5 separate regions of the Homo sapiens genome follow, and regions 1, 2, 4 and 5 are each linked to region 3. Evidence: fine-mapped expression QTL. A gene starts in region 3. Each other region holds a variant in brackets. All regions are shown on one strand. Distances are between the middles of the regions.

Evidence for each region. PIP is the estimated chance that this variant, and not a neighbour inherited with it, causes the effect.
Region 1: its variant is fine-mapped to the expression of TMEM127 in neutrophils (BLUEPRINT, PIP 0.95).
Region 2: its variant is fine-mapped to the expression of TMEM127 in putamen (GTEx, PIP 0.97).
Region 4: its variant is fine-mapped to the expression of TMEM127 in whole blood (INTERVAL, PIP 0.92).
Region 5: its variant is fine-mapped to the expression of TMEM127 in whole blood (TOPMed, PIP above 0.99).

Annotation. Positions count from the first base shown.
Region 1 is chr2:96,541,501-96,547,701 of GRCh38, forward strand. ARID5A (AT-rich interaction domain 5A) reads left to right here. Exons shown (of 7, transcript NM_212481.3): 2 at 5,902-6,017. Among named protein-coding and RNA genes, the nearest start is that of ARID5A, 7.8 kb to the left of the region's middle. The variant C/CT (reference allele first, on the strand shown) is at 3,656.
Region 2 is chr2:95,916,681-95,922,881 of GRCh38, forward strand. It overlaps ANKRD36C (ankyrin repeat domain 36C), which reads right to left. Exons shown (of 88, transcript NM_001393982.1): 33 at 5,102-5,130; 34 at 4,927-4,999; 35 at 3,212-3,240; 36 at 3,053-3,125; 37 at 1,334-1,362; 38 at 1,175-1,247. Among named protein-coding and RNA genes, the nearest start is that of ANKRD36C, 72 kb to the right of the region's middle. The variant G/A (reference allele first, on the strand shown) is at 2,955.
Region 3 is chr2:96,262,544-96,268,617 of GRCh38, forward strand. It overlaps TMEM127 (transmembrane protein 127), which reads right to left and starts at 3,454. Exons shown (of 4, transcript NM_017849.4): 1 at 3,326-3,454; 2 at 2,595-2,969. The coding sequence starts at 2,838. It overlaps CIAO1 (cytosolic iron-sulfur assembly component 1), which reads left to right and starts at 3,682. Exons shown (of 7, transcript NM_004804.3): 1 at 3,682-3,946; 2 at 4,778-4,926; 3 at 5,082-5,193; 4 at 5,293-5,381; 5 at 5,914-6,074. The coding sequence starts at 3,808. RefSeq lists silencers at 2,714-3,023, 3,074-3,283, 3,294-3,343 and enhancers at 3,574-3,763, 3,994-4,273, 4,871-6,070.
Region 4 is chr2:96,211,024-96,217,224 of GRCh38, forward strand. All of the region lies in intron 1 of STARD7-AS1 (STARD7 antisense RNA 1), which reads left to right. It overlaps SNORA112 (small nucleolar RNA, H/ACA box 112), which reads left to right and starts at 3,616; the gene lies at 3,616-3,739. The variant G/T (reference allele first, on the strand shown) is at 3,386.
Region 5 is chr2:96,156,449-96,162,649 of GRCh38, forward strand. No RefSeq gene overlaps it. Among named protein-coding and RNA genes, the nearest start is that of DUSP2, 14 kb to the left of the region's middle. RefSeq lists enhancers at 823-912, 1,092-1,630, 1,442-1,736, 1,453-1,862, 2,023-2,162 and 1 more. The variant G/T (reference allele first, on the strand shown) is at 2,926.

The DNA.
Region 1 (6,201 bases), 280 kb after region 3:
GTCCCAGATGTGTTCCTTATAAGCACTGACATTATGGGGAAAGTAGCATTTTACACCATTGGAGGAGGAGGCTACTCACTGGGGCCCCCAACCAATGAGGGGAAAGTATGGCTAGGATCCCTATTTCATCCTGTATACTGGAATAGATTCCAGATGTGTTACAAGTGAGTAATGAGACAATAATCACCATCATCATCATTATTGCTTGCTGGATGGAGAAAGGTGAAGTCTGGATGACATTCTTATGGAGAGCAGTTTTCTTTTTTGCATTTGATCCCCCACTTCTGTTACAAATAAAACATGTAAGGCATTGTGCCAGAAAAGAATCTGCACACACAGGCTGGGAACAAGGCAGTAGTGCGGTGGCTCACAGCAGCAGCAGCAGCTATCAGGGGCAAGTGGGTTTCTCCTGCCTCTGTGGGCTGAGTGGGGCTGGGAGACGGGGCCTCCAGCTCCATAAGCCTTTTCCCTCCTCCACAGAGCCAGGAGAGGGCCCACCCCACCATGCAGGTCCTGCCTGCCTGGCTCCCAGCTCTCTACCTCCCAACGCTGGACCTGCATGGCCCAACATCTATGGCAGCGGGTTTCAAGCTTATTTTTTATAGCAGAACCCCTTTTACAAATATAACCCTGATCTGTGAATGATCAGGGAAAGGGAGGGATTAGGGCAGCCAGGGACAAGACAGAGGGCACCCTGGAGACCAAGGGGGAGAGGACTCTCCCTTCTTGCTCATCTAATGCTGCAGAAGAGGGGGCCCAAAGGCCTGCAACCCAGAGGGCCCTGGCAGGACAGAGCACTAACCCTGAGAATGGAGACCGAGTTCATCTGGGGACTCAGCTGGACACAGAGATAGAATGTTTCCCTTTGTGGCTTAAGGCGAACAGCTCTAATCCCTTTCCCATCTGGGGTTAAACAGCTCGGATTGGTGACCTCCTTTCCAGGTAACACGAGCACCCAACTCCAGGAGATTTTCCCCTGGTGTGGTCCAGGCAGAGCTTGCAAACTCTGAACCATGCAGAAGGGACTAGGGCCCCTCTCGCCCTGTGGCTCACAACCTGGCTGCCCACTGGGATGCCCTGGGGAGCTTTAAACCCTGCTGCCCCACCTTGGACCTTAAATCAGACTCTGAGGATGGGGCCGGAGCATTATGCTCCTCCAGGTGATTCTGATGGGCCCTGTCTAACCACTGTATTTTTCTGAAGCCCAAGGTGCAGCGACTTGCCAAGGGTCACATAGCAAGTCTGTGACTTAAGAAGCCCCAGTCACACCAAGGAAGACATGGAGAGGGTCTGTCGATGCTGAGGCTCTGGGGCAGCAGGAATGAGGGGAGGGGATGTGTGAGCTGAGGGTAGCAGGCAGTGGGAGAAGAGCCAGTGGAGGAGGTGCTTCTGGACCTGGAAGACTTCAGGAATTCACGGATAGCTAGCAAAGAACTCAAGGATCTTCCTCTCCCATTTCATAGCAGGGAAGACTGAAGCACAGAGTCACAGAGGACTTGGTTGGAAAGGCATCAGTCTGCTGGGTCACTTGTTAGTACCCAGGATTTCTGGAGACTGGTGGGTCAGAGGCTAGCCCAAGAGGGTGGCCCTGGTCTCTTTCTCTTTGACAAGCCTTAGGACTGGTTTCTCTCCAGGCTTACTTGGACTCTTCATGAAGGCCTTGCAAATGTTGATAACCACAGCAGCCACTGGACCAGAATCAGACTTTGTTTTGAATCCTGGTCCCCCAGGGAGGCAAGCAACTTACCCATAACCATTCTGGCTTCAGATTCCCCCTCTTTAAAATGGAATTCCTCCGGGACTGAGGGAGAGAATGTACAGGCACACCTTGCTCTATCATGCTTTGCTTTATTGTACTTCACAAATACAGCATTTTTTACTCATTGAAGGTTTGTGGCAACCCAGCATCGAGCAAGTCTATCGATGCCATTTTTTAACAGCACGTGCTCACTTTGTGTCTCGGTGTCACATTTTGGTGATTCTTACAACATTTCAAACTTTTTCATTATTATATCTGTTATGGTGATCTGTGATCAGTGATCTTTGATGTTCCTATTGTCATTGTTTTGGGGTACCATGAACCCCACCCACAAAGACAGTGAACTAAATCGATAAATGTTGTGTGTGCTCCTCCTCCACCTGCTCCATCGACCAGCATTCCCCATCTCTCTTCCTCTCTTTCTCTTCTTTGGCCTCCCTGTTGCCTAAGGCACAACAATATTGAAACTGGGCCAATTAACAGTCCTACAATGGTCTTTAAGTGTTCAAGTGAAAGGAGGAGTTACAGGTCTTTACTTTTAAATAAAAAAACTAGAAATAATTAAACTTAGTGAGGAAGGCAGGTCGAAAGCCCAGATAGGCCGAAAGCTAGGCCTCTTGCACCAGTTTGTCAAGTTGTGAATGCCAAGGAAAAGTTATTGAAGGAAATCAGAAGTGCTATTCCAGTGAACACGCATGGTAAAGCAAAACAGCCTTATTGCTGATAATGGAGAAAGTTTGAGAAGTCTGGATAGAAGATCCAACAAGCCATAACATTCCCTTAAGACAAAGCCTAATCCAGACCAAGGCTCTAAATCTCCAATGCTGTGAAGGCTGAGAGAGGTGAGGAAGCTGCAGAAGAAAAGTTGGAAGCTAGCAGAGGTTGCTTCATGAGGTTTAAGGAAAGACGCCATCACCATCACATAAAAGTGCAAGGCGAATCAACCAGGGCTGGTGTAGAAGCTGCAGCAATTTATCCAGAAGATCCAGCTAAGATCACTGATGAAGGTGGCCACACTACCACAGATTTTCCATGTAGATGAAACAGCTTTGTATCAGAAGAAGATGTCATCTAGGACTTTCATAGCTAAGGAGAAGTCAATGCATGGCTTCAAAAGACAGGCTGACTCTCTTGTTAGGGGCTAATGCAGCTGGTACTGGTGACTTTAAGTTGAAGCCTGTGCTCATTTATCATTCCAAAAAACCTAGAACCTTTAAGAATTATGCTAAATCTACTCACTCTGTGTTCTAAAAATGAAATAACAAAGCCTGGATGACAGCACATCTGTTTATAACATGGTTTACTGAGTATTTTAAGCCAACTGTTGAGACCTACTGCTCAGAAAAAAGGATTCCTTTCAAAATATTATTGTTCATTGACAAGGCAACCGGTCATGCAAGAGCGCTGATGAAAATGTACCAGGAGCTGCATGTTGTTTTCATGCCTACTAGCACAACATTTATTCTAGAGCCAAGGATCAAGGAGTAATTTTAAGTTTCAAGTCTTATTATTTAAGAAATACATTTTGTAAGACTGTAGCTGCCATAGATAGTGATTCCTCTGATGGGCAAAATACATTGAAAACCTCCGGAGAGCATTTCAGGTACATTTGTGGTTCGTGGGAGGAGGTCAAAATATCCAAGCATTTGGGAGAATTTGATTCCAACCTTCCTGGATGACTTTGAGGGCTTCAAGACTTCAGTGGAGAAGACACTGCAGATGCAGTGGAACCAGCAAGAGAACTAGAGTTAGAAAGCAGAGCTTGAGGATGAGACTGAATTGCTGCAATCTCATGATCAAACTTGAGTGGATGAGGAGTTGCTTTTTATGGGTGGGCAAAGAAAGTGACTTTTTTTCTTCTTTTTTTTTCTTTCCTTTTCTTTTCTTTTTCTTTTT[C/CT]TTTTTTTTTTTTTTTTTTGAGACAGAGTCTTGTTCCATCGCCCAGACTGGAGTACAGTGGAGTAATCTCAGCTCACTGCAGCCTCCGCCTCCTAGGTTCAAAGGATTCTCCTGCCTCAGCCTCCTGAGTTGCTGGGACTACTGGGACCTGCCACCACACCCAGCTGACTTTTGTGTTTTTAGTAGAGACAGGGTTTCGCCACGTTGGCCAGGCTGGTCTCAAACTTCTGACCTCAGGTGATCCACCCACCTTGGCCCCCAAAGTGCTGGGATTACAGGCGTGAGCCACCGCGCCCATCCTAAAGTGGCTTCTTGAGGTGGAATCTACTGGCGAAGATGCTGTGAACATTGTCAAAATGACAACAAAGGATTTAGAATGTTACAGAAACTTAGTTGATAAAGCAGCAGCAGGGTTTGAGAGGAGGGACATCAGTTTTGAAAGTTTTGCTGTGGATAAAATGCTGTCAAAAATAGCATCACATGCATGCCATGGAGAAGTCTTTCATGAAAGGAAGAGTTGCCAGGTGCAGTGGCTCATGCCTGTAATCCCAGCACTTTGGGAGGCCGAGGTGGGTGGATCATGAGGTCAGGAGTTTGAGACCAGTCTGGCCAATATGGTGAAACCCCGTCTCTACTAAAAATACAAAAATTAGCCGGGCTTAGTGGCACGCACCTGTAGTCCCAGCTACTCGGGAGGCTGAGGCAGGAGAATCACTTGAACCTGGGAGGCGAAGATTGCAGTGAGCCAAGATCACGCCACTGCACTCCAGCCTGGGCAACAGAGCAAGATTCTGACTCAAAAAAAAAAAAAGAGTTAATGGATGTGGCAAACTTCATTGTTGTCTTATTTTAAGAAATTGCCACAGTCACCCCAGCCCAAGAAACCACCACCCTGAAATCAGTCAGCAGCCATCAACATGGAGGGAAGACATAAGAACACCTACCAAAGCAGGACCACTCAGTGGCCAAGGATTCTACCCTGTGCCTCTGAGTACCACTGGCCCCTGGCTTACGCTGGTTTGGGTTTCTTGTTCCTGAGGAGATTCTTTTTCTGTCTGGGATGGAAGGGAAATCTCATAGGTTCCTAACAATAAGGATGTCCTGGGAGGGAGTGAACCAATTCATACTTGATTAACAAAAGAACAAAGGACAGAAAGAAAAGGTTGTCAGAAGATGTGGGTTCCTGGTCTGGTATCTGCTGCCAGCCTGCTGTGTGGCCTCAGGCAGTTTCCAGTGGTTGTGGTTTTTGCAGTGGCAGAGGTGTTGCGTTTTTGCAACCATCAGCACATGGTGGTTCTTAGTAAAATACAGCCCATGGCTTCTCCTGCCCACCACGCAGGGTTGTTGTGAGCCTTGCTCATTCCAGCTTGGCACCTGCTGTGTGGGGTATGGGAAGCCTCACCGAACTATCAGGGAGCCCCAGGAGCCACAGGCAGTTCAGCCAGGATGGCTGTGAGTAGCCTAGGGCGAGGGAGGAGCTGCCCGTGGCCAGGGGCCAGAGGAGGCCACCCAGAGGAAGGCACTTGTCAGCAGAGACCTGAGGGGTCACCAGGACCCTTGTAGGTGAGGAGAGCATGTGGCCTTATTAGGGCAGTTAGAACTCTGCAGATGCTCAGGGAAAGGTCAGATATTCCTGAATATTCCCAGAGGAACTACTACCCAGGGACCCCTGTGTTGCTTTGGGGCCACAGCCATGGGATCCTTTAGCTCTCCAGTGAGACTAAGCTGCTTCTCAACTCTGTGTCTGAGCATGGGGCAGATTTTGGAGACAGGATTTCCCCAAGCACCACAGCCCAACCCCGGCCTCCTGTGACTTGACCTCAAGGTGGTTTTGCGTTTCCTTCAAAGATGTGGGGAGATAGTTGGAGCAGAGGAAAGAAAAGGGACAGGTGTGGAGCGGATGCAGCGGGTTGTCGGGGAGCGGGGAGGAGGGCCTGTGTGTGTGTGTGCATGTAGCCTATGTGCAGCCAGGGACACACCCCTTCCCCCTGGCCAATTCTTTTTTTTTTTTTAATAATAGAGACGGGGTCTCACTACGTTGCCCAGACAGGTCTTGAACTCCTGACCTCAGGTCATCGCCTGCCTGGGCCTCCCAAAGTGCTGGGATCACAGGAGTGAGCCCCTGCACTGGCGCCCTCTGGCAACTCCAATTGGGAGTAGGGAGAGTGCTCCTGTTCCTCCCTGCTTGCATCTCATATGCTCTCTCCCCACCCCTTCCTCCTTACTCCTTCCCTCTCTCCTTGCAGCAGCCCCTGTCAAAGGGAACAGGAAGCAGTCCACGGAGGGTGACGCCCTAGACCCACCTGCATCCCCCAAACCTGCTGGCAAGCAGAACGGAATCCAGAACCCCATCTCGCTGGAGGTGAGTTGACTCCCTCTGCTGACTCCCTGGGCACTCTTCCCTGCCACCCTCACCTGTGCTCCGCCTCCAGGTGAACCTGGACACTCCCCAAGCTCTCAGGAGGGAGATATGTTCCTACCCTGGCCCTGCCCAGCAGCCAGGGGACTTACTTGTCATCTGTGGCAGAGAGTTTCAATCTTGGTTT
Region 2 (6,201 bases), 350 kb before region 3:
GTGTCCTAAATTGATCACCTTGGATATCTGTTTGCTGATACCTAGTAGATAATATTCATTATCTCTCACACCCATGTGGTGTAATAATTTGCCTAAGTTTCTTGGATCCACTAGTTTAGCCTTCCTATAATTTCTTCATCTAGTCGTGGCACCAAAGGATAATATTTTAGACTCGATAAAAATATCATCAATTATCAATTTTGACATACGTATACAAAGTAAAACTGCTACAAGCGTTAGATATTGAGCAGTTTTTCATTCAGAAATCACTGCAATATTCATTGAAAATGACCATTTTAGGAGTTAATTAGAATCCAGCATTTTTGTTTCTAAAATAGCCTTGTTGGGAGTATCAGGTTGTTCTCTAAAGAAGTTTGATGAAATAGCTATTGTATCCAAGACGTAGCTCCTTGAACAAGGAAGCCAATGTATTCATATTCAAGTTTATCTCATTTTTATAAGTAAAGTCAACAAAACATGTATCTCTGATGCCTAATAGTAACAAAAAGAAGTAATGAGTCAGTGTGCTTTATCCCAATTCTAGCATTGTTTCCTGCTTCCAGTAGTTCCTGGAGCTGCCAAAATCAAATATTTTTTAAGCACATATTCCAAATGCATGTGAAGTGAGTCCACTCAGATTTCCTCAGCAGAAACCCCTAAATTATATAAATAACTTCTTTTCCCTCCTTCCTGTCTGACAATCCATCATCCTTTGGAAAATAATTGCTACATCAGGGGTCTCCTTAGTTCTCATTCTACAGTGTCTATGGATTATTACTATCAGTTTTCTGTCTTTTCTCAGCAGTACGATGTGACGTCTGTAAAATCTATACTTCCTCTCTTTCTCCTTCCACCCTTAGTGAAACCATGCTGTAGAATTAAAGCAAAACTATGCTGTTCCCCAGAGCCCCTTATGTCTTGAACCTCTCTCCATATTTCTTCTTCCCAATTTCAACGTGGGGAAGTGTATAATCATACTGCAAAGATCACGTTCCAAGCCAGCAGCATTAGCGCCACCCAAGAATTTATTACAAATGAAGACTCTCAGGACTGCTGGATCAGAATGTGCAGCTTTGGCGAGCACCCCCAACCGCCCTCCGCTGATTTATTCAGGGTAGAGAAGTTCTTTTCTATCTGGATTGAACGTGACATTAAATGTCTTTTGCAAAATTACCTGTCCCAGATTTTTCTCCGTCCTTTATTTCTGTGGCTATAATCGAAACAGAATCTTCCTCGTCAGTTGTAGCCTGAATGGAATTTGAAAGAAAATAATAAATAAATAAATCAATGAAGTATGTGTCATAGAATACAATGTAAATGAGAGTTTAATTACCTTCAAGGCTGGTTGTTTCTGAGAAGACACTGAAAAGCAAAAGGGATACATAATCACTCATGTGTAAATATGATAAAGTTATCCATACATTCACACAGTGTTAGCATCAAGCTGTATCCTTCTGCCTGTACTAGTGTAGGCTCTGATGTCTTCTACTTTGTGTCTTGGGACTGGAACATGACAGAAGTACACTGGTAAGAGGGAATACAGGCTCCATCAAATATATCCTTACAATTTCAAACACGGTATGATTCGTCATACGTCGAAAACTAAAATAAAACCGTGTCAATCTCAATGTGGATATGCCGAGTGATGAGGACAAACTGATCTAAAATCGGAGGAGCAACTCATACATGTGAGAATCAATGTCAAAGCAGGTGCTACATGATCCCACATGTCTTTCATGCAGGAAATCAAAAGGATTTACACCATTATACTACAAACATTCATCATGCTCTTTAACTTGCCCAATAACTGAGAAGGCACACAGTTACCATGACACTTCAGTTGAACATACACTTCACATCCCTTCAGTGGAAGTGTCCTAAATTGATCACCTTGGATATCTGTTTGCTGATACCTAGTAGATAATATTCATTATCTCTCACACCCATGTGGTGTAATAATTTGCCTAAGTTTCTTGGATCCACTAGTTTATCCCTCCAAAACTTTCTTCGTCAAGTCGTGGCACCAAAGGGTAATATATTAGCCTCAATAAAAATATCATCAATTATCAATTTTGACATACTTCTACAAAGTAAACCTGCAGCAAGCGTTAGATATTGAGCAGTTTTTCATTCAGAAATCACTGCAATATTCATTGAAAATGACCATTTTAGGAGTTAATTAGAATTCAACATAATTTTTGTTTCTAAAACATGATACTTCTTGGGAGTATCATGTTAGTCTCTAAAGAAGTTTCATGAAATAGCTATTTCACCCAAGAGGTAGCTCCTGGAACAAGGAAGCCAATGTATTCATATTCAAGTTTATCTCATTTTTATAAGTAAAGTCAACAAAACATGTATCTCTGATGCCTAATAGTAACAAAAAGGAGTAATGAGTCAGTGTGCTTTATCCCAATTCTAGCATTGTTTCCTGCTTCCAGTAGTTCCTGGAGCTGCCAAAATCAAATATTTTTTAAGCACATATTCCAAATGCAAGTGAAGTGAGTTCACTCAGATTTCCTCAGCAGAAACCCCTAAATTATATAAATAACTTCTTTTCCCTCCTTCCTGCCTGACAATCCATCATCCTTGGGAAAATAATTGCTACATCAGGGGTCTCCTTAGTTCTCCTTCTACAGTGTCTATAGGTTATTAATATCAGTTTTCTGTCTTTTCTTAGCAGTACGATGTGACGTCTGTAAAATCTGTACTTCCTCTCTTTCTCCTTCCACCCTTAGTGAAACCATGCTGTAGAATTAATGCAAAACTATGCTGTTCCCCAGAACCCCTTATGTCTTGAACTGCTCTCCCTATTTCTTCTTCCCAATTTCAATGTGGGAAAGTGTATAATCTTACTGCAAAGATCATGTTCCAGGCCAACAGCATTAGCGTCTCCCAAGAAATTTATTACAAATGAAAAATCTCAGGCCTGCTGAATCAGAATGTGCAGCTTC[G/A]GCGACTCCCCCCACCCACCCTCCGCTGATTTATTCGGGATAGAGAAGTTCTTTTTTATCTGGATTGAACATGACATTGAATGTGTTTTGCAAATTACCTGTCTCAGATTTTTCTCCATCCTTTATTTCTGTGGCTATATTCAAAACAGAATCTTCCTCGTCAGTTGTAGCCTGAATGGAATTTGAAAGAAAATAATAAATAAATAAATCAATGAAGTATGTGTCATAGACTACAATGTAAATGAGAGTTTAATTACCTTCAAGGCTGGTTGTTTCTGAGAAGACACTGAAAAGCAAAAGGGATACATAATCACTCATATATAAATATGATAAAGTTATCCATACATTCACACAGTGTTAGCATCAAGCTGTATCCTTCTGCCTGTACTAGTGTAGGCTCTGATGTCTTCTACTTTGTGTCTTGGGACTGGAACATGACAGAAATACACTGGTAAGAGGGAATACAGGCTCCATCAAATATATCCTTACAATTTCAAACATGGTATGATTCATCATACGTCAAAAACTAAAATAAAACCGTGTCAATATCAACGTGGATATGCCGAGTGATGAGGACAAACTGATCTAAAATCGGAGGAGCAACTCATACACGTGAGAATCAATGTCAAAGCAGGTGCTACATGATCCCACATGTCTTTCGTGCAACAAATCAAAAGAATTTACATCATTATACTACAAACATTCATCATGCTCTTTAACTTGCCCAATAACTGAGAAGGCACACAGTTACCATGGCACTTCAGTTGAATGTACACTTCACATCCCCTTCAGTGGAAGTGTCCTAAATTGATCACCTTGGATATCTGTTTGCTGATACCTAGTAGATAATATTCATTATCTCTCACACCCATGTGGTGTAATAATTTGCCTAAGTTTCTTGTATCCACTAGTTTATCCCTCTGAAACTTTCTTCATCATGTCATGGCACCAAAGGATAATATATTAGCCTCAATAAAAATATCATCAACTATCAATTTTGACATACTTCTACAAAGTAAAACTGCTACAAGCATTAGATATTGAGCAGTTTTTCATTCAGAAATCACTGCAATATTCATTGAAAATGACCATTTTAGGAGTTAATTAGAATTCAACATAATTTTTGTTTCTAAAACATGATACTTCTTGGGAGTATCATGTTAGTCTCTAAAGAAGTTTCATGAAATAGCTATTTTATCCAAGAGATAGCTCCTGGAACAAGGAAGCCAATGTATTCATATTCAAGTTTATCTCATTTTTATAAGTCAACAAAACATGTATCTCTGATGCCTAATAGTAACAAAAAGGAGTAATGAGTCAGTGTGCTTTATCCCAATTCTAGCATTGTTTCCTGCTTCCAGTAGTTCCTGGAGCTGCCAAAATCAAATATTTTTTAGGCACATATTCCAAATGCATGTGAAGTGAGTTCACTCAGATTTCCTCAGCAGAAACCCCTAAATTATATAAATAACTTCTTTTCCCTCCTTCCTGTCTGACAATCCATCTTCCTTGGGAAAATAATTGCTACATCAGGGATCTCCTTAGTTCTCATTCTACAGTGTCTATGGGTTATTACTATCAGTTTTCTGTCTTTTCTCAGCAGTACGATGTGATGTCTGTAAAATCTATACTTCCTCTCTTTCTCCTTCCACCCTTAGTGAAACCATGCTGTAGAATTAAAGCAAAACTATGCTGTTCCCCAGAGCCCCTTATGTCTTGAACCTCTCTCCATATTTCTTCTTCCCAATTTCAACGTGGGGAAGTGTATAATCATACTGCAAAGATCACGTTCCAAGCCAGCAGCATTAGCGTCACCCAAGAATTTATTACAAATGAAGACTCTCAGGCCTACTGAATCAGAATGTGCAGCTTCGGCGAGCCCCCCCACCTGCCCTCCACTGATTTATTCGGGGTAGAGAAGTTCTTTTCTATCTGGATTGAACATGACATTAAATGTCTTTTGCAAAATTACCTGTCCCAGATTTTTCTCCATCCTTTATTTCTGTGGCTATATTCGAAACAGAATCTTCCTCGTCAGTTGTAGCCTGAATGGAATTTGAAAGAAAATAATAAATAAATAAATAAATGAAGCATGTTTCATAGACTATAGATTCACTAGTTCACAATATAAATGAAAGTTTAATTACCTTCAAGGCTGGTTGTTTCTGAGAAGACACTGAAAAACAAAAGGGATAATCACTCATATGTAAATATGATACATTTTCCATACATTCATGCGGTGTTAGCATCAAGCTGTATCTGCCTGCCTGTATTAGTGTAGGCTTTGATGTTTTCTACTTTATGTCTTAAGCCAGGAGCATGACAGAAATATACTAAAGAAAACAGGAATTGATGTGTCACGATATATTCCTAACTATTTCAAACATAATATGATTTCTCGTATATCTAAAAGAAAAATAAATCAGTGTGAATATCAAAAAGGGTATGCCAAGTGATCACGACAAATGTGATCAAAAATCAGAGGGGAAACTCAATCACCTGGGAAAATCTCAAAGCAGGTGGCACATGCACCCACTTGTCTTTTATGCAAGATATCCAAATGATTTACACCATTATACTGCAAACATTCATCATGTTCATTAACTTGCCCAGTAACTGAGAAGGTACACATTTACAGTGACACTTCAGTTGAATGTACACCTCATGTCTCTGTCTCTTCAGTGAAGTGTCCTAAATTGCTCAGCTTGGATATATGTTTCCTGAATCCGAGTAAATAATATTCATTATTTCTCATATCCATGTGGTGCAACAATTTGCCTAAGTTTCCTGTATTCTCTAGTTTAGCCTTCCCAGACATTTCTTCATCCACTCATGGCAACAAAGTATGATATATAAACCTCAATAAAAAGCATCATCAATTATCAATTTTGACATACTTCTACTAAATAAAACTGCTAAAAGCATTGGATATTGATAAGCTTTTATATTTGGAAATCACTCCAATATTCATTGAAAATGACCATTTTAAGAGTCAGTTGATGAACTCAACATTATATTTGTTTTTAAAATTGTCTTGTTAGGAGGATCATACTATTCTCTAAATAATATTCATTAAATAGTTATTTTATCCGTGAGATAGCTCTTTGATGAAAGAAGCCAATGTATTGATATTCAAGTTTATCTAATTTTTATAACAAAAATCAACAAAAGATATATGTCTTATGCCTAATAGTAGCAAAGAGAAGTAATTAGTCAATGTGGTTTATCCCAATTCTAGCTTTCTTTG
Region 3 (6,074 bases):
GGGCACAAACTGCTCTTAGGAGATGGCCACAGGCAAGCAAGTAGAAACTATACACAGGTTAAGGTCTCTAAATATGTGAGCAAATGTAATGTAAAGGTTAAGAAAACATGCTTTGCAAAAGACAAAACGGAGCCTGAATAATTTCTTTCTTTTTAATTTTTGAGATGGAGTCTCACTCTGTAGCCCAGGCTGGAGTGCAGTAGTGTGATCTGGGCTCACTGCAACCTCACCTCCCAGGTTCAAGCGATTCTCCTGCCTCAGCCTCCTGGGTAGTTGAGGCACCAGCCACTAGGCCTGGCTAATTTTTGTATTTTTAGTTGAGATGGGGTTTCACCATGTTGGCCAGGCTGATCTTGAACTCCTGACCTCAGGTGATCCATCCGCCTTGGCCTCCCAAAGTACTGGGATTACAGGTGTGAGCCTCCATGCCTGGCCTGGCCCGAATAATTTCTTAGAAAGGGTAAATACACATGTGAACAAAGAAGAACCTGCACCAAGAATTTACTTTTTTTTTTTTTTTTGAGATGGAGTCTTGCTCTGCTCTGTTGCCCAGGCTGGAGTGCAGTGGTGTGATCTTGGGCTCACTGCAACTCCTCTACTTCCTGGGTTCAAGCGATTCGCCTGCCTCAGCCTTCAGAGTATCTGGGACTACAGGCGTGTGCCACCACACCCAGCTAATTTTTGTATTTTTAGTAGAGACAGGGTTTCTTTCACCATGTTAGCCAAGCTGGTCTCCAACTCTTGACCTCAGGCAATCCACCCGCCTCGGCCTCCCAAAGTGCTGGGATCAGAAGTGTGAGCCAGTTCCTGGCCTTTCTTTTTTTTTTTTTTTTTTTGAGATGGAGTTTCGCTCTTGTTGCCCAGGCTGGAGCGCAATGGCGCGATCTCAGCTCACTGCAACCTCGGCCTCCCAAGTTCAAGCGATTCTCCTGCTTCAGCCTCCCAAGTAGCTGGAATTACAGATGCCTGCCACCACGCCCGGCTCAAAAATTTACTTTTATTTTTAACATGCCTTCGACAAGGATGCACACCAAAGTGAAATAATTATGAGATTGCTCCTTATGACAGCTGAAGTAAAACAAAGGATAAAAACTATAAATGACACGGCATCATTTTATATTGGCATCAACAGAGGTGGGGTAGTCCCAGCTCTGCCACCCTAAACTGGGTAGCCTTGGGGAGATCCTTCATTTTTCTGAGCCACAGCTAAGCACACCCCATGCAGTGCTAGATTTCGGAGATCTAGCTTTCTAGATCTGATGGGTCTAGTGGTGGGAAGGTGGTATGTGTGCTTCAAAGAAAGCAAGTACAGGGCAATGTGCTAAAAGAAAAACCACCAAGACTCACTCAAGCTTAATGCTCTTTGTGCCATTAGCAACATGACAGAGAAAAGGCTGCATATAAGGCCTCTGTCGTGTGCATAACTTTGGCTTTAATGAGCCAACCCAGCAAAGAGTACCATTAAGGTGAAATCTGGAAACAACCAGTTGTCCCCAACCTTCTACAAAATCACCCTACAGCTTCTAAAACTCAAGAGAGATGCAAAACAGTAAGAGAACACTCAGAGAAAGGCAACATTTGGCCACAAGGATGAGGCTTTTCAGCCTAGACCTGCAGAAGCAGAGTATGGTCCGATGCACAGCGGGGAACTTGGACCTTTTCACCAAATCCCAGTGCCTGAATTCTTCAGGAGGTAACACGCAGATATCTAACAGGAAGTGCTTCTGATAGGCGGTGCAGTAAACATCTGGAATGCATCACAGCCAGGGAATAGCACAGACAGGATAGCACAGAGAGGATATAAGACCTTCAAGATGGCTCAAAAGACCTTGGGGTTGATGAACTATGCTGTTACTAAGGACTGTTTGGGGTACATTGATCATTGTTAGGGTAAAAAGCAGGTGATACAGTCCAGTCCTGTCCTCACACTTCACAATTTTTACTGGAGACAAGAATGGGCAGGATAAACTATGGGGCCCATAGGACCCTCCCATCGTCTGCTGTCTATCTGGCCGGAAAGCATGATGATGAACAAAGCAACCTTGCCTCTGTCAGGCACACCTATAATGGTTCCAAGAGCCACATTCCGACTGTTGTACTGCGGGTGGCAATGGAACGGTCTTCCGATTACCTAAAATGCCACAGATTCCCTTCTTCTCTAATACGCATCCGATTACCATAGAACTCTAAGATATCTTTTAAAACCTAGTCATATTAAAAGTTCCTTTTTCTCCATTAATCAGTCTGCCCCAAAGAAGCTTTTCCGTATTTCACAGGATCCTTAGAAGAGGCCAGCTAACTGTGATACCTAGCACCCTTATCTTTTCTCGATACACAGCGTCCTTCCTCCAGCAGAATCCTAAAATAGCAGCAGTCCGGATTAACATGGCTGTGAGGAGTAGGTGCTTAGCTGAATAACATCAGAATTAATGAGGGGCCGGACCCCAAACAGAGCCACCTGGTGGGCATGAACACCAGGCAGTTATGGGGCCGTTTCCTTCAACCAAGTGTCTGGTCCCTGGCTATCTCTGCTTCAGCCAGAACACATTCTGTCCCCCACCGAGGCTTTAAGGGCCAGCGCGCAGCACCCTCACCTTTCAGCAGGTCCGGGTGCACATAGCCCAACACGTCGGAGACCCCCAGCTCCTGGCGCGAACAGGTGCCTCCGTGGATGTGCAACCAGGCGGGCTCGGCGAGGGCAGTGCACAGCGCCGTGATAGACAGGGCGCCAGGCAGGGCCGAGGCCAGGCTACGCTCCGGCTGCTTGGGCAGAGCGCTGCCTCCCGGGCTCCTCCGCCGGCGCCCGCCGGGCAGCCCTGCGCCTCCGGGGGCGTACATGCCCGGGGCCGCCCGCCGTCGCTCCGCAGTCGCTGCTGGTCGCCGCCGACCTCCGCGGGGCGCGCAGAGCCTGACAGTCCGGTGGAGGATAGCAACGCTCCGGGTTCGCTGCAGGTGAAGCCGGGACTGGGCTGTCAGGGTTGACACCAGAGGATAGGGGGGTGGGACCCGGGGCTGACGGAGACGGGGAGGGCTGCGGGAATTCGGGGGGCGGAGACAGGAGACTCCGGAATGGGACTGCGGGACGACAACCGAAGAGGGCCAGGGGCCAGATGGGGTCTGGGCAGACTCGAGTGGGGGGCGGAGGGATCGGGGATCGGCTACTGCTAGAGCAAAGACCCGGAGTCAGGGTCTCAGCCAGAGGATGCCGAGGGGCGGAGGACCGGGCTGGGCCGCGGGGATCGGGGACCCGTGATCTGGGACCGGCGGTTTGGGGTGCGACCTGTGCGCAGAAAAGACCCTCCCCACGCCGCCCACTGTTCCTCACCAGTCAGCAGGCCCCAGGGCTGGGATGGTGCTGCTCAGCCCAGTCACGGGCTTCTCGGCTGCCGGGGGCCGAGCGTTCCCAGGCCCCAATCCCGCAACGCCCGGACAGACCCGGGGCCGATGCACTTCCGGCTTCCTCCTCCTCTGCCTCCGCCTCCTCCGGCTCCCCGCCCCGTCCCCCGCGCGCGTCACAGCCTGGGCGCGCCGCCGGCTCTGCGCAGGGCCTCACGGGACTGGTAGTTCGAGGCGGTCCCGCGATGCTTTCCCTGCCGAGGTGAGGGGAGCGACTACAACTCCCAGAGGGTATGGCGGCCGCAGCAGTGGGCAGTTGAGTTTCCGGGGCGACCCAGGTCCTCCGGCGGAAGCGGGAGCCTCTGTCGGCCGCGGAAGCCTGGAGTGGGCGGTACGCAGACGCGCGCGGTGAGACCCGCTGTCTGCTCAGCGGACTCTGCCCGCCCCCACCTCCCCCTGCGTCGGGCCGACATGAAGGACTCGCTGGTGCTGCTGGGCCGTGTCCCGGCGCACCCGGACTCCCGCTGCTGGTTCCTGGCCTGGAACCCCGCGGGGACCCTGCTGGCCTCGTGCGGCGGCGACCGGAGAATCCGCATCTGGGGCACGGAGGGTAAGGCCCAGCCTGGTTGCGCGGCCCTCAGCGCTGAGGGCTCAGCCTGCGCGTAGTGCAGGCGCTCAGCCTGCAGGGGAGGCTGAACCTGTTCCTGGCGGAGGGAGAGTGGGATGTTAGCCACGCCGAGAAGGGCTTTACAGGCAAAGAAGTCTGCGACTGTTGGGAGGAAAAACGTCAGCAGACAAGCTGAAATGTCAAGGGAATTGTGTTAGCTGCAGAGGCAGGAAAATGGGAAAAGAGAGGTGTTAGGAAAGTGGCCTTCAGAGTAACTTGCGACTGGATGGTCACATTTTATCCCGAGGGCATTGGGGAACCAATAGCAATTTTAGATCAGATTTGTTTTAGAAAGATGCCTCCAGAGGTTGGGCGCGGTGGCTCACGCCTGTAATCCTAGCAGTTTGGGAAGCAGAGGCGGGTAGATCACCTGAGGTCAAGAGGTCAAGACCAGCCTGGCCAACATGGTGAAACCCCGTCTCTACTAAAACTACAAAATTAGCTGGGCGTTGTGGCGGGCACCTGTAATCCCAGCTACTCGGGAGGCTGAGGCAGGAGAATCCCTTGAACCCAGGAGGCGAAGATTGCAGTGAGCCGAGATTGTGCCATTGCACCCCAGCCTGGGCATCAGAGCAAAAACTCCGTCTCAAAAAAAAAAAAAAAAAAAAAAAAAAGCTTCCAGACGAAGTAGATTCATTTGCATCTTTGTAAAAGCTGTGAAATACACTCCCTGAGCTTTCCCCCACTAGCTTGATTCCAGTGCTAGCCCCTGATATTGAATGGCTTCATGGTGCTGCACCCAGCTCCAGAGCCTGGCCTGCGCTCCGCCTTTAGGTGACAGCTGGATCTGCAAGTCTGTCCTTTCTGAAGGCCACCAGCGCACCGTGCGGAAGGTAGCCTGGTCCCCCTGCGGTAATTACCTGGCCTCTGCCAGCTTTGATGCTACCACTTGCATTTGGAAGAAGAACCAGGATGACTTTGAGGTACCCAGGCTGGTTGGGACCAGAATTATTGCCTGTTTCCTCCCCAGGGCTGGTTCAGGAACCTGAGCCAACCTGCGCCAGTTGGGCTGTACCCATGGGAAGGGGCTTAGGGGTGTTAGCTGCTGTTAATTCTCATTTTCTTTCCCCTTTCACAGTGTGTAACCACTCTCGAGGGCCATGAAAATGAGGTCAAGTCAGTGGCTTGGGCCCCATCTGGCAACCTCCTGGCCACTTGCAGCCGAGATAAGAGCGTTTGGGTCTGGGAAGGTGAGGCCAGGTCCCTCCAGGTGGATTGGGAACCACCTGACAGCCCCCTCTGTGTCCCTGACAGGGTCGGCTCTTGGGTCCCCTTTTTCTCTCCCACAGTTGATGAAGAGGATGAGTATGAATGTGTCAGTGTTCTCAACTCCCACACACAGGATGTCAAGCATGTGGTTTGGCACCCAAGTCAGGAGGTAAGAGTCAAGCAGGGACTCTTGTGGGAAGGGCTCTGGTGTGCAGGCTTGTGCCCAGCCTTCCTCTGCTTTTCAGCCTTAATCTAGCTTTTACGGAGAGTTCCATCTGTGAACAAAAAACATTAGTCCCTTTATAAAAACAGATCCGGCTGGGTGTGGTGGCTCACACCTATAATCTCAGCACTTTGGGAGGCCATGGTGGGTGGATCATCTGAGGTCAGGAGTTCGAGACCAGCCTGGCCAACATGGTGAAACTCCGTCTCTACTAAAAATACAAAATTAGCGGGCATGGTGGCACATGCCTGTAATCCCAGCTATTCGGGAGGCTGAGGCAGGAGAATCACTTGAACCCAGGAGACGGGGGTTACGGTGAGCCGAGATCGTGCTATTGCACTCCAGCCTGGGCAACAACAGCAAACTTCATCTCAAATAAATAATAAAATAAAATAAAAGCAGATACCTGGAACTGACCTGTCCTTTGCTTCCTGGGCCACACAGACACATGTTGGGTTTCCTTTCACTCTTCCCCCAGCTCTTAGCTTCTGCCAGCTATGATGACACAGTGAAGCTGTACCGGGAGGAAGAGGATGACTGGGTATGCTGTGCCACCCTTGAGGGCCATGAATCCACTGTGTGGAGCTTGGCCTTTGACCCGAGTGGCCAGCGCCTGGCGTCTTGTAGTGATGACCGTAC
Region 4 (6,201 bases), 51 kb before region 3:
AAAAAAAACAAAGTTGACTTATAGAGCCAATAAGCCAAAAAATTGACTTATAGAGCCCCTTGGGAAATCTGGCCTCATACTATGTCAACACAGTCCCTGTACGAGGTTCCTGACCTGTGGTAAGTAAAGAATGTCACTTTCTAACAGGCTCAGGAGACCTAAGTTATCTTGACACCTCAAGAGGAGAGGAATTTACCCAACTCATAGGTATTCGAGGGTACAAACCCATGGCTGGGCTTGGCTTTAAAAAGGTCTTATCTAAGATTTCTTATGGAACAGAGTTCCATCAAAGCCAATTTTAAAAGCCTATGTGAAGGCCAGGCGCAGTGGCTCACACCTGTTATCCCAGCACTTTGGGAGGCCAAGGCAGGCAGATCACAATGTTAGGAGTTTGAGACTAGCCTGGCCAACATGGTGAAACCCTGTCTCTACTGAAAATACAAAAAGTTAGCTGGGCGTGGTGGCAGATACCTGTAATCCCAGATACTTGGAAGACTGAGGCAGGAGAATCGCCTGAGCCTGGGAGGCGGAGGTTGCAGTAAGCCACGATCGCACCACCGCACTCTAGCCTGGGCCACGAAGCAAGACTTCATCTCAAAAAAAAAAACAAAGCCTATGTGAAAAATAATTATTCTTGCTTCACTTTATGCAAATCATCAGGCCAAGTACAATAAGACTGCGGTTTATTTTGTAAACAAATCAGTTCTATCATGATTTGTTTTTAGTAAAAATGGGAACTGGAGAGAGAAAAATTATGCTTCAGAAGAAAAACTGTGGTACACCTTTTGTTAACTGTTCTTAAGTTTTTTTCTGCAGTTTGAACTAAATCCTAAATTCTTTGTGGGCTACAAGTTCCCAGGCTAATGCTTTTAAATCTTTACTTTTAAAACTGGGAACTGCACTCCTTACCCTAGTACTCATTATTTCCCTTATAGTACACGGTTCCCTTAAACACAGTACGAAAACTATAGGTGGCAATACTAATGCCTTTGCCATGCAAGCCTTCGAACCCCAGTCAGGCCTGCAGGAGTACACTCAGACAGTTGCAAAGTGGTTCCACTCCTCTCACCTTGGAGTCAACACCTACCCCTCACTACACCCCTGGTTAGTAGGAAGAAGTTAAGGTCTTTGCCCTTTTTCCATCTTCATTAACAACACCTTAAGATAAAGGTGTTATAAACCCAAAGGGAGGGATTAAAACCACCATTGCAAAATTATAACTGAGACAGAGAGATCTGACCTAACCAACTCCATCTTGCTTCTAACCTCCAAGTTGTCCTTATTCATTCCTGGGCATAGGCTGAACTAACTTTGGGAGGGACGTAATTTATAGTTTAAAACAAAGAGGATAACAGCCATTTCTCAAAACAAAGGTCCTTGCCTGGAGACTAGACTGCCTTTGTAGGACTAACAAATTAGCCACAAGGTTAGAAGTTAAGGTTTAAGAGGCTACAAGATTCTGACCCTCCCTGAACTGCTCCTAAGATCAGTGCTTGAGATATTTTGCTGACCTTGCACTTGATGGATCGGCTGGCACCACCCAGATGGATAAAATGGCTCATTTGATCTGTGACCCCCAACCGGGAACCAGCTCAGTGCAAGATGACAGCTTCAATTCCCTATGATTTCATCTCGGACCCAACCAATCAGCACTCTGGACTCACTGACCTTCCCCCACCCACCAAAGTCTCCTTTAAAACTCTGGGTTGGGGCCTGGCACAGTGGCTCATGCCTTTAATCCCAGCACTTTGGGAAGCTGAGGTGGGCGGATCACCTGAGGTCAGGAGTTTGAGACCAGCCTAACCAACATGGCGAAACCTCGTCTCTACAAAAAATACAAAAATTAGGCATGGTGGTGGGCGCCTATAATACCAACTATTTGGGAGGCTGAGGCAGGAGAATCGCCTGAACCCAGGAGGCCAAGGTTGCAGTGAGCCACAATAGCGCTATTGCACTCTAGCCTGGGTAACAGAGCGAGACTGCGTCTCACAAAAAAAAAAAAAAAAAAGGTCTCTTGGCCAGGTGCAGTGCGGTGGCTCACGCCTGTTATCCCAGCACTTTGCTGGGAGGCCATGGCAGGCAGATCACTTGAGGTCAGGAATTCAAGACCAGCCTGGCCAGCATAGCAAAATCCCGTCTCTACTAAAAATACAAAAGTTACCTGGGCATAGTAGTGCACCCCTGTAATCCCAGCTATTAGGGAGGCTGAGTGAAGCAGGAGAATTGCTTGCACCTAGTAGGCAGAGGTTGCAGTGAGCTGAGATCACGCCACTGCACTCCAGCCTGGTCAACTGAGCGAGACTCCATCTCAAAAAAAAAAAAAAAAATTGATCCCCAAATGCTCAGGGACACTGATTTGAGTAATGATGAAACTCTGGTCTCCCGCACAGTGGGCTCTGCGTGAGTTACTCTTTCTCTATTGCAATTCTCTTGTCTTGATAAATCAGCTCTGTCTATGCAGCAGGCAAGGTGAACCCATTGGGTGGTTACACCAGGATGGGGTAGGGGGCAGTAAAGACACCACTGGTGAAGGGGGACTCCTCAGGCCTTCGACGCCTGCCATCAAAACCTTCCTTCGACGCCTGCCATCAAAACCTTCCCCGGCCTCCCCTCCTGGCTCTCCCAGAAGCACCCCAAACATTCCTCTCTGCTAACTCCTCGGTCCAAGAATGGACCCGTGTCACAGCCTGAGCGCCCAGGACAGTCCAGAGGGAGTCACATGGGCAGGTGGCCCGTCGCAGTCTGCAAATATGTCAGCCTTTTGGTAAAAGAGCAACAGAAGAGAGTTTGTTGGGGCAGATGCCCTAGGTCAAGTAGTAGCTGTCCCTCTCTTTTTGACCCAAAGGTGACAGTGTTGGAAGGTAAACAGATTTACTCACCTGTGAGCAACCTGGCTAAATGATCTCAAAGTGTATTAAATTACTATTCTGTATCCAGCCTCATTAAAACAAAGCTGCTAAGTTGTTTCCTTACCCTTTTAAATCTTATATTTAAGCACCTTATTGACAGAAGAAAAAATATTATAAACTGTCTTGGTGTGAAATGGACTGCTGGTTCCAAGGCATTTAGGAATTTTACTGTAGCTAAAGAGTTATGCGATTTTAGACGTTCTTAATAAAAGTAACTGTTTCTCCAAAGAGAGATTATGCTTTCCTGGGAACCGAAATTTAGGTCTTTCCTATCCAGCCTGTCCGATTTTAGGTTGGATTAATGAGGTTTTATTTCATCTGGAAAGCAGTGAAGAAGAAATGTGTATGTAACAGAAAGTAGTATTTGACACCGTGTTTAGCCAGGGGTTTTTTGTTTTGTTTTGTTTTGTTTTGAGACGGAGTCTCACTCTGTTGCCTAGGCTGGATCTTGGCTCCCTGCAACCTCTACCTCCTGG[G/T]TTCAAGCAATTCCCATGCCTCAGCCTCCCAAGTAGCTGGGATTACAGGCCCATGCCACCATGCCCAGCAAATTTTTTGTATTTTAGTAGAGACGGAGTTTCACCATGTTGCCCAGGCTGGTCTCGAACTCCTGACCTCAGGCGATCTGCCTGCCTCGGCCTCCCAAAGTGCTGGGTTTGCAGACATAAGCCACTACACCCTCTCTCTAAAAACATTTTTAAAAGGAGCCAATGAGGCCTGCGCAAGCCCCAACCCATTGGTGGTTTGTTGTTGCTATCTGCCTCATAAAGCAGAGTGGAGGGTTTGTCTTTTGGGAAGATGAAGTGTCTTCTCTAAAAAAGCCTCCTACATAGTTGGCCTTGGCATCTGCCAGGAATAGAAGGGCAGGGCTTGAGGCTTCCTGAGTCTGGGTTTTCAGTTGAGGTGGAGAGTGAATACAGTGATTGTAACCAGAAAACCCGGAGTGGGGTGGAGTTACCTCCGGAACTCATCACTGTTAACTCAGCCTGGACTTTGTGACAGTTAGAGAAGTGGATTTCTTAATAATAATAATTTTTTTAAAGGAGCACTTTGGCCGGGTGCGGTGGCTCACGCCTGTAATCCCAGCACTTTGGGAGGCCAAGGCGGGCGAATCACCTGAGGTCAGGAGTTCGAGACCAGCCTGGCCAACATGGTGAAACCCCATCTCTACTAAAAATACAAAAGTTAGCCAGGTGTGGTGGTGCATGCCTGTAATCCCAGCTACTTGGGAGGCTGAGGCAGGAGAATTGCTTGAACCTGGGAGGCGGACGTTGCAGTGAGCCGAGATCATGCCATTGCACTCCAGCCTGGGCTACAGAGGGAGACTCTGTCTCAAAAAAAAAAAAAAAAAAAAAGGAGTACTTTGTGGGTTTGATTTTATATGTATACATAAGTTTTCTACCAATATCCTATAAACCAAACGAATCCTCAGAAACTCCTGCTGAGCCTCTCTAATGCAGCCATTTTCTCCATCCTACTGCCTGTTTCCCATCAGTACATAAACATAATCGAGTTCATCTTCAAAAAAGGCTTTGGGGATAAAAGTCTTTAAAAAGAGGCTTTAACTCTTCCCCTTTCTAGATACCACTTCTCTTTCCACTGCTAAGTTGTTTTTTTTTTTTTTTTTTTTTTTTTTTTTTTTTGAGACGAAGTCTTGCTCTGTTGCCCAGGCTGGAGTGCGGTGGCTTGATCTTGCCTCACTGCAACCTCTGGCACCCGAGTTTAAGCGATTCTCCTGCCTCAGCCTCTGAAGTAGCTGGGATTACAGGCGCGTGCCACCACGCCCAGCTAATTTTTGTATATTTAGTAGAGACAGGGTTTCAGCATCTTGGCCATGCTGGTCTTGAACTCCTGACCTCGTGATCTACCCGCCTCGGCCTCCCAAAGTACTAGGATTACAGGTGTGAGCCACCGCGCCCGGCCTATATATTTTTAAAAACAATGGCATATACAGGTGGCCCTTTGTATTTACGGGTTCTGCATCCAGGGATTCAACTAATTGTGGATGGAAAATATTTGGGAAAAAAAATTGCATCTATACTAAACATGTACCCACTTTTTTGTCATTATTCCCTAAACCAGCGGTCCCCAAACTTTTTGGCACCAGGGACTGGTTTCATGGGAGACAGTTTTTCCACGGACGGGGTAGGATGGTTTTGGGATGAAACTGTTCACCTCAGATCATCAGGCATTAGTAAGATTCTCATAGCAACCTAGATCCCTAGCATGCACAGTTCACAATAGGGTTCGCTCTCCTGTGAGAATCCAGTGTCACCGCTGAACTGACAGGAGGCAGAGTTCAGGCGGTAATGCGCTGTGAGCACCCCTCCCCTAAACAATACAGTATAACAACTGTAGAGCATTTACGCTGTATTAGTTATAAGGAATCTAGAGATGATTTAAAGTATATGGGAGTATGTACATAGATTATGTGCAAATACTATGCCATTTTATATCAGGGACTTGAGCATCCACAGGAGGTCCTGGAACAAATCCCCCGCAGATACCAAGGGACAACTATATGTTTCCTGCCTCTATTTCTGTACCTCCCTATCATTTCTTCCTGTTTAGAAATTAAAAAATCAATTTTTTGACAGAATTCTGTCACTTTTTTTAAGGTTCTAATAGTACTGTCTCAGATGACCTCCCTTCAAATAAACCAACTTTTTTTTTTTTTTTTTTTTTTTTGAGACAGGGTCTCACTCTGTCACCCAGGCTGGAGTGCAGTGGCTTGATCTCTGCTCACTACAACTTCCGCCTCCCAGCTCAAGCAATTCTCCTGCTTCAGCCTCTCAAGTAGCTGGGACTACAGGTGCATGCTACCATGCCTGGCTAATTTTTGTATTTTTTTGTAGAGACAGGGTTTTGCCATGTGGACCAGGCTGGTCTCGAACTCCTGGGCTCAAGAAATCCACCTGCCTCAGCCTCCCAAAATGCTGGGATTACAGGCATGAGCCATGGTGCTCCACCTGTTATCAACAAACTTTGTTTACTTGTGTATCCCCAGAACAATGTTGAAAAACTATATCCCCACTTTGCATTTTTTAAGGTGATCCAAGATTATGAGTTTAAATGATTGCACATTACACCATTTCTGGATTGTTGTAAATATTATTTTAAAATAAAGATGTTACATCATTTTCAAATGTATCCAATGGAATCTATATCATAGCAATTTAGTACCTATCATTATTCTTTTTAACTTTTTTTTTTTCAGTTGCAGGATTTAATAGAGTGAAACAGAGCTCCCATAAAATGGGAGGGGACCCAAAGGGGGTTGCCGCTCCCTGCTCGA
Region 5 (6,201 bases), 110 kb before region 3:
GCTGAGAGATGAGCCCACTTCAAACACACTTTTACCTTTTACTTATTCTCCAAAATTTGTTTGGAATGATGACATAAAATATGAGAAAAACAAACAAGCACTGTTTTTTAAACCAGAAAAGCAGAGAGGTGGTTAACTCCATGCCACAAAAGGATCAGAGACCCGGCATGTCATGTGCCCACACCAGGGCCCATGTTGGGGTGACTCCAAGCAGTGTGACAAACTGGTTTGGGGGCTAATGTGAGGTTACAGCAGAGGTTTCCCAAACCAACCAGTTGGTTTCAGAATCAGCCAGGCCCTGTTGTCTCCTAACCAGACTATGATAACAGCCACCCCCAGGTCCTGGGCACCTGCCTCTGCCTCTCCCGGCCCCGTCTGCCCACCCCCTCCCATCACAGCCCAAGTCTTCTTCCCCGAGGGAAATCTGAGTCCCAGCTCCCTATAGTTGCCTCTGGGATGCATCCACACCCTTCAGCAGGGAGTCAAGGCCCCATCTTTCTTCCCCTTATTTGATTCATGTTCTTCAGCAAAGCCCAGCTTAGTTCTTCCCACCACCCTGTGCCCATGGCCCCCAAACCACCTTGCTCACAGCAGCCACTCTGTCTGCAATGCCCTTCTTGTGGACTCAGAATGCCCTCATGCCCGCCTCCCTGGGGCCAGCACCAATGCTGCCTCCTCCAGGAAGCTTCCCCGTCACCCTGGCGGAGCGTGGTGGCTCCCTCTTGGGTGCCCTGCAGCTCTGTGAAGCCCTCAGGGACTTGCTGTCCCATGGGAGCTGCTGTCATGCAGCTGCTTCCAAGCAGGCTCCACCCTCTTGGATGTCTCCCTCTGTCCTCACCCCAGGGATTCTCATCAGCCCTTCTTTACAGATATGGAAACTGAGGCTCAGAGAGGGAAAGTGAGTCATGCTTGGTGAATCCTAAGCAAGAGGCTGGAGGGGCAGAAGACATGTCCTGTACAGGCTGCCCAGAGCCATGCTGCCTTCCCCCACCCTCAGCAGAACCTGCCTGCCCCCAGGTCAGCCACCGTCCCCCCAGGAGGCCCCCATGCCTGAACACAGGGGTGGCCCCTGCCAGAGCCACACTGGGCAAGTAGGGCTGTGGACAGGACCAGTGCACAGCCATGGTTCCCACAGGGCAGAAGGAACAGGTTACAGAAAACCACTGGGCTTATCCTCAGCCATCTCCTACCTCCCCAAGGAGCCCTTGGGGCCTGGGGACAGGTCAGTAGCAGAGGAAGGACAAGGGGCTTACAAGCATCTTGGCCCTGGCATGGAGTCGAAAATGGGTGAGCAGGTGGCCACATGGGTTGGGGACCACAGGGCCAGGCAGTGTCCGGCAGCCCAGAAGCCCTGAGCTGAGGCTAAGCGGGGCTCTCCCCACACCCCACCCTATAGAGGGTGGAGGAAGTTCCCTGCTGGGTCCAGGGCTGGGACAGTGACAGGCCCCAGCGGGGAGAAGGCCCCATAGTCCCAGTCCGCCAAGGGAAATAGAAACTGCTCACACGCCAGCAGTAGGGCGCACACGGGGTGCCTTCCCCTCATGGCGTGCAAGGAGGGGTGGCCCCTCTGTGTGGGCGGCGGCAGTGCTGAATCATGTCACCCTGCCCCTGCCGCTTCACTGGGAAAGGGGCCCCAGCAGCACCACCTCACCCTGCTGTTGTCGGAACTGAATGAGCCACCATCCGGGAAGGTGTTTTGGAAGCTGTGAACGGCCTGCCATACGTAAATAATTAAAATAATGAAGGAACAACAGACTCATGAGGGCAGGCAAGTGGGCTGGCCTCCCAGCACAGGGGGCAGCCCCCACCTATAGGGAGACCCCAGAAGAAGCTTTTCTTCTGTCCCCCAGCCTCTCTCCAGGCATAGGGCTCTTCCTGGCCCCTCTGCCCATGTGTAAGCTTCTCTCACAGCCGAGGACAAAGCCTTCCCCAGGACCCTCCTGCTCTGGCACCTCTCAGCCTCCTGGCCCTTGACTCCTCAACTTTGGATCCTGTGGGGCAAGAGAGGGCAGTCAGGGAGAGCAGAGGCCCCATGGTTGTCAATTCAGGGGGAGCGTCACAGACAGTGCCCCCCTGCCCCACCTAGCTGGGCCCCTTCCTCGTGCATCTCCGGGCTGCTTATGCTAAGAGAACCTTCCTCCTTTCCCTGATCGGCAGCCCCTTCTGTAGGCTCCATGCAGCAGGTGCTGGGACAGAAGAAATCCATGCTGGTGCACTGCAGCCGTCTGCTCCCGAGAGGGCCGCCTCGGGACCTGCTGCCCAGCACGGGCTCGGGCAAGGCTTGCTGAGAGGCTCAGGGCACGGGGGATCCAGGAGTCCAAGGTGGACCCAGGGGGCCTGGCCGCCTGCACAGCCCCTTCTTGTCCTAGCTTGGCAGGAGGCCCTCAGACCCTGGCCAGTGAGGTCCAGAGAGTCTGCACTGGGACAGCCCAGTCACATCAGCGGCAAGAAGAGTCGCGAGAGAGCCAGGAGCTGGGTCACGAGAGGGTGTTGCTGACTGTTTTTGGCCCCAGCCCCTTCTTGCCCCTTCAATAAACTTCTCCTCCTCCACCCTGGAATTTCCCCAGGAGGATCACACACATTAGAGGGGCGCTGCCCAGAACTAAGACCTCCGTGAGACTCAGCCATTCAACACATATTTGTGGAGCAGCTCTTATGCGCCAGGCACCGCTCTGGGCTCTGGGAATGCAGTGGCTTTGCTGGTTACTCTCTGTCCCCTTCCCCTTCCCAGACCCGTTCTCCTCCCTGCTCTGGGCCCACAGGCTGCCATGCACGGACAGTCAGGTGGGATCTCTCACTCTCTGCTTCCTGACTACTCAGCCAGAAGGCACCAGGAGGCGAAGTGGGGAAAGAGTCTCGAGGACTTCTATCCCTGCTCCTCCTCTGCCCTGACACCAAGGTGTGGGCCGGGCTGGGTCCCTCTGG[G/T]ACTCCCGTTCCCATAGCTCGGCCCCTCTTCACAGCCCTCGCTGTCCCAGACTCTGACAACATCTTCCCTCTCCTTGTTCTCCCAGCCCAAAAAAGAAGAATGGCCTTGTGGTACAGTGCAAAAATGACTACAACATTTTGACGCTCTTCTATCAAGAGGTGGAGTCCAATTCTCCACAACACATCAAGGACACAGGACAGCCCAGCCTGTGGCACAGGTGCTTTCTCACACATCCTGCCCAGACGCCCACGGTTCCTGGTACTGTGTGTTTGCCCTCGCTGCAAATATGCCCGATTTGTTCAACTACAGCTGTGTTCCTCGTGGTCTTTGGCTGGAGGGAGTTGAGAGACCCCACCTCTATCCTGGTTCCAGCCTCGCCCCTCCTCCTGTAGCATCCAGAATGAACTTTCTAAGTTTCTAAATTGCTCTGCTGGAAACCTTTCAGTGGCACCCAGGTATGTCGGTAGCAGTTCGATTTGGCTGACAGGACAGTGGCCCAGGGTTAAGTGGGGACTAGGAGCTCAGGCTGGTATGCAGGCTCTCCTCCCCAGAACTCCCAGCATATAAAAACTATAAAAACCCTAGAAGAAAACCTAGGAAATACCATTCTGGACACAAGCCCTGGCAGAGACTCCAAAAGCAATTGGAACAAAACCAAAAATTAACAAATGGGACCTAATTAAACTAAACAGCTTCTACACAGCAAAAGAAACCATCAACAGAGTAAACAGGCAACCTACAGAACAAGAGAAAATATTTGCAAACAATGCATCCAACAAAGTTCTAATATCCAGAATCTATAAGGAACTTAAATTAACAAGCAAAAAACAACCCCATTTAAAAAATGGACAAAGGGCTGGGTACAATGGCTCATGCCTGTAATCCAGCACTTTTGGAGGCCAAAGCAGGCAGACCACTTGAGGTCAGGAGTTCAAGAGACCAGCCTGGCCAATATGTGAAACCCTGTCTCTACTAAAAATACAAAAATTAGCCAGCTGTGGTGGCTCGCGCCTGTAGCCCCAGCTAGCTACTTGGGAGGCTGAGGCAGGAGAATCACTTCAACCCAGAAGGCAGAGGTTGCAGTGAGCCGAGACCTCGCCACTGCACTCTAGCCTGGGTGACAGAGCAAGACTCTCTCTCAAAAAAATAAAAAATAAAAATAATAAAAATGGGCAAAGGCCATGAACAGACACTTCTCAAAAGAAGACATACATATGGCCAACAAGCATATGAATAAAATGGTCAGTATCACTAATTATTAGAGAAAGGCAAATCGAAACCACAATGAGATAACAATTCACACCAGTCAGAATGGCTACTATTAAAAAGTCAAAAAATAACAGATGCTGGAGAGGTTGTAGAGAAAAGAGAACACTTCCATGCTGCCAGTGGGAATGTAAATTAGTTCAGCCACTGTAGAAAGCAGTTTGGAGATTTCTCCAAGAACTTAAAGCAGAACTATCATTTGACCCAGCAATTCATTACTGAGTATGTACCCAAAGGAACATAAATCATTCTACCACAAAGACACATGCACGTGAATGCTCATTACAGCACTATGCACAACAGCAAGGAGGAGGAATAAACCTAAATGCCCATCAACGGTGGACTGGATAAAGAAAATGTGGTGCATATATACCATGGAAGATTACACAGCCATAAAAAAGGAGATCAAGTCCTTTGCAGCAACACGGATGGAGGTGGAGGCCATCATCCTAAGCAAATTAATGCAGGAATAGATAACCAAATACCGCAAGTTCTCACTTATAAGTGGGAGCTAAACGTTGAGCACACATGGAGCCTACTTGAGGTGGACGAGGAGGGTGAGGGTCGAAAAACTACCTGTCTAGTACTATCCTTATTACTGGGGTGACGAAAAAATCTGTACACCAAACCCCCATAACGTGCAATTTACCCATGTCACAAGCTTGCACACATACCCTCTGAACCTAAAATAAAAGTTGGAGAGAAAAAAAACAAAATAAACTTAAAATTTTTTAAAAGTTTCTGTATGCTCAAACTCACCACAAACAAAAGTAAAGGGTGAGTGACAAACATGGAGAAAATACTTAGAAACAGGCTGGGCGCGGTGGCTCATGCCTCTAATCCCAGCACTTTGGGAGGCCAAGACAGGCGGATCACCTGAGGTCAGGAGTTCAAGACCAGCCTGACCAACATGGCGAAACCTCGTCTCTTCTTAAAAAATACAAAAATTAGCCAGATGTGGTTGCACGTGCCTGTAATCCCAGCTACTCGGGAGGCTGAGGCAGGAGAATTGCTTGAACCCAGGTGGCAGAGGTTGCAGTGAGCCGAGATTGTGCCACTGCACTCCAGCCTGGGCAACAAAAGCAAAACTCCATCTCAAAAAAAAAAAAAGAAAGAAAGAAAATATTTGAAAGCAAGTGACAGATAAAATATTATTCATTCATTCATTCATCCAGCAGTTAATTGGAGGGTGCCTATTAGGCACCAGGCATTGTCTCAGGTACTGGAAACCTTCACATGGACAAATGACAAAATCTCTGCCCTCTTGGTTCTTACATTGTAATGGGGTGGGGAGGACAAGCAATAAAGAAATAAACACATCGTACGTCAGATGGTGGTTATGGAGAAAAGCCCAACAGGAAAAGAGGACAGAGAGTGTGAAGAAAGTGAGTAAAGATGTGAGGCCTCCAAAAACAAATAAGAAAAAGTCAAACAACACAACAGGAAAGGGGCAAAGAATAACAACACAGAATTCACAGACCAAGAAATGCAAATCTCCAGTAATCCACAAAAGCCATGCTCTACCCACTGAAACAAGGCAGCGCGATGATCCACCCATCAGGTTGGCAAACATTCAAATACTGGGAAGGGTGGTGAATGAGTGAACTTGTGCTCTTTTGGTGGGAGTGTAAGTTGGTTGATAACGTGTGTTTAAAGAAAGCAATTTGACAGAACCTATCCAAATGTTTAAAGCACATGCTCTTCAACCCTGCAACCTCTCTTCTGGGTGAAGAAACTTGTCCAAAGATTTCCAAGGCAGCATTGTCTGTATTGGGAGGAAAAATGGAATACAAAGTTTTTACACTTCTATCAAGTATCTGTAAAAACAAATAATGAGGTAAATCTACACACACTGATCTAGAACAAGCTTCAAGATACAGTGAAGACAAGTGAGTTGCAAAATAAGTTCGTATAGTATGATCCCATTTCAATAAAAACAAAAAAGAGAAAGCTGTACATTCTTGTTTGTTTTTTGGTTTGTTTTGTTTCAGTTTTTTTTTTTTTTTCTT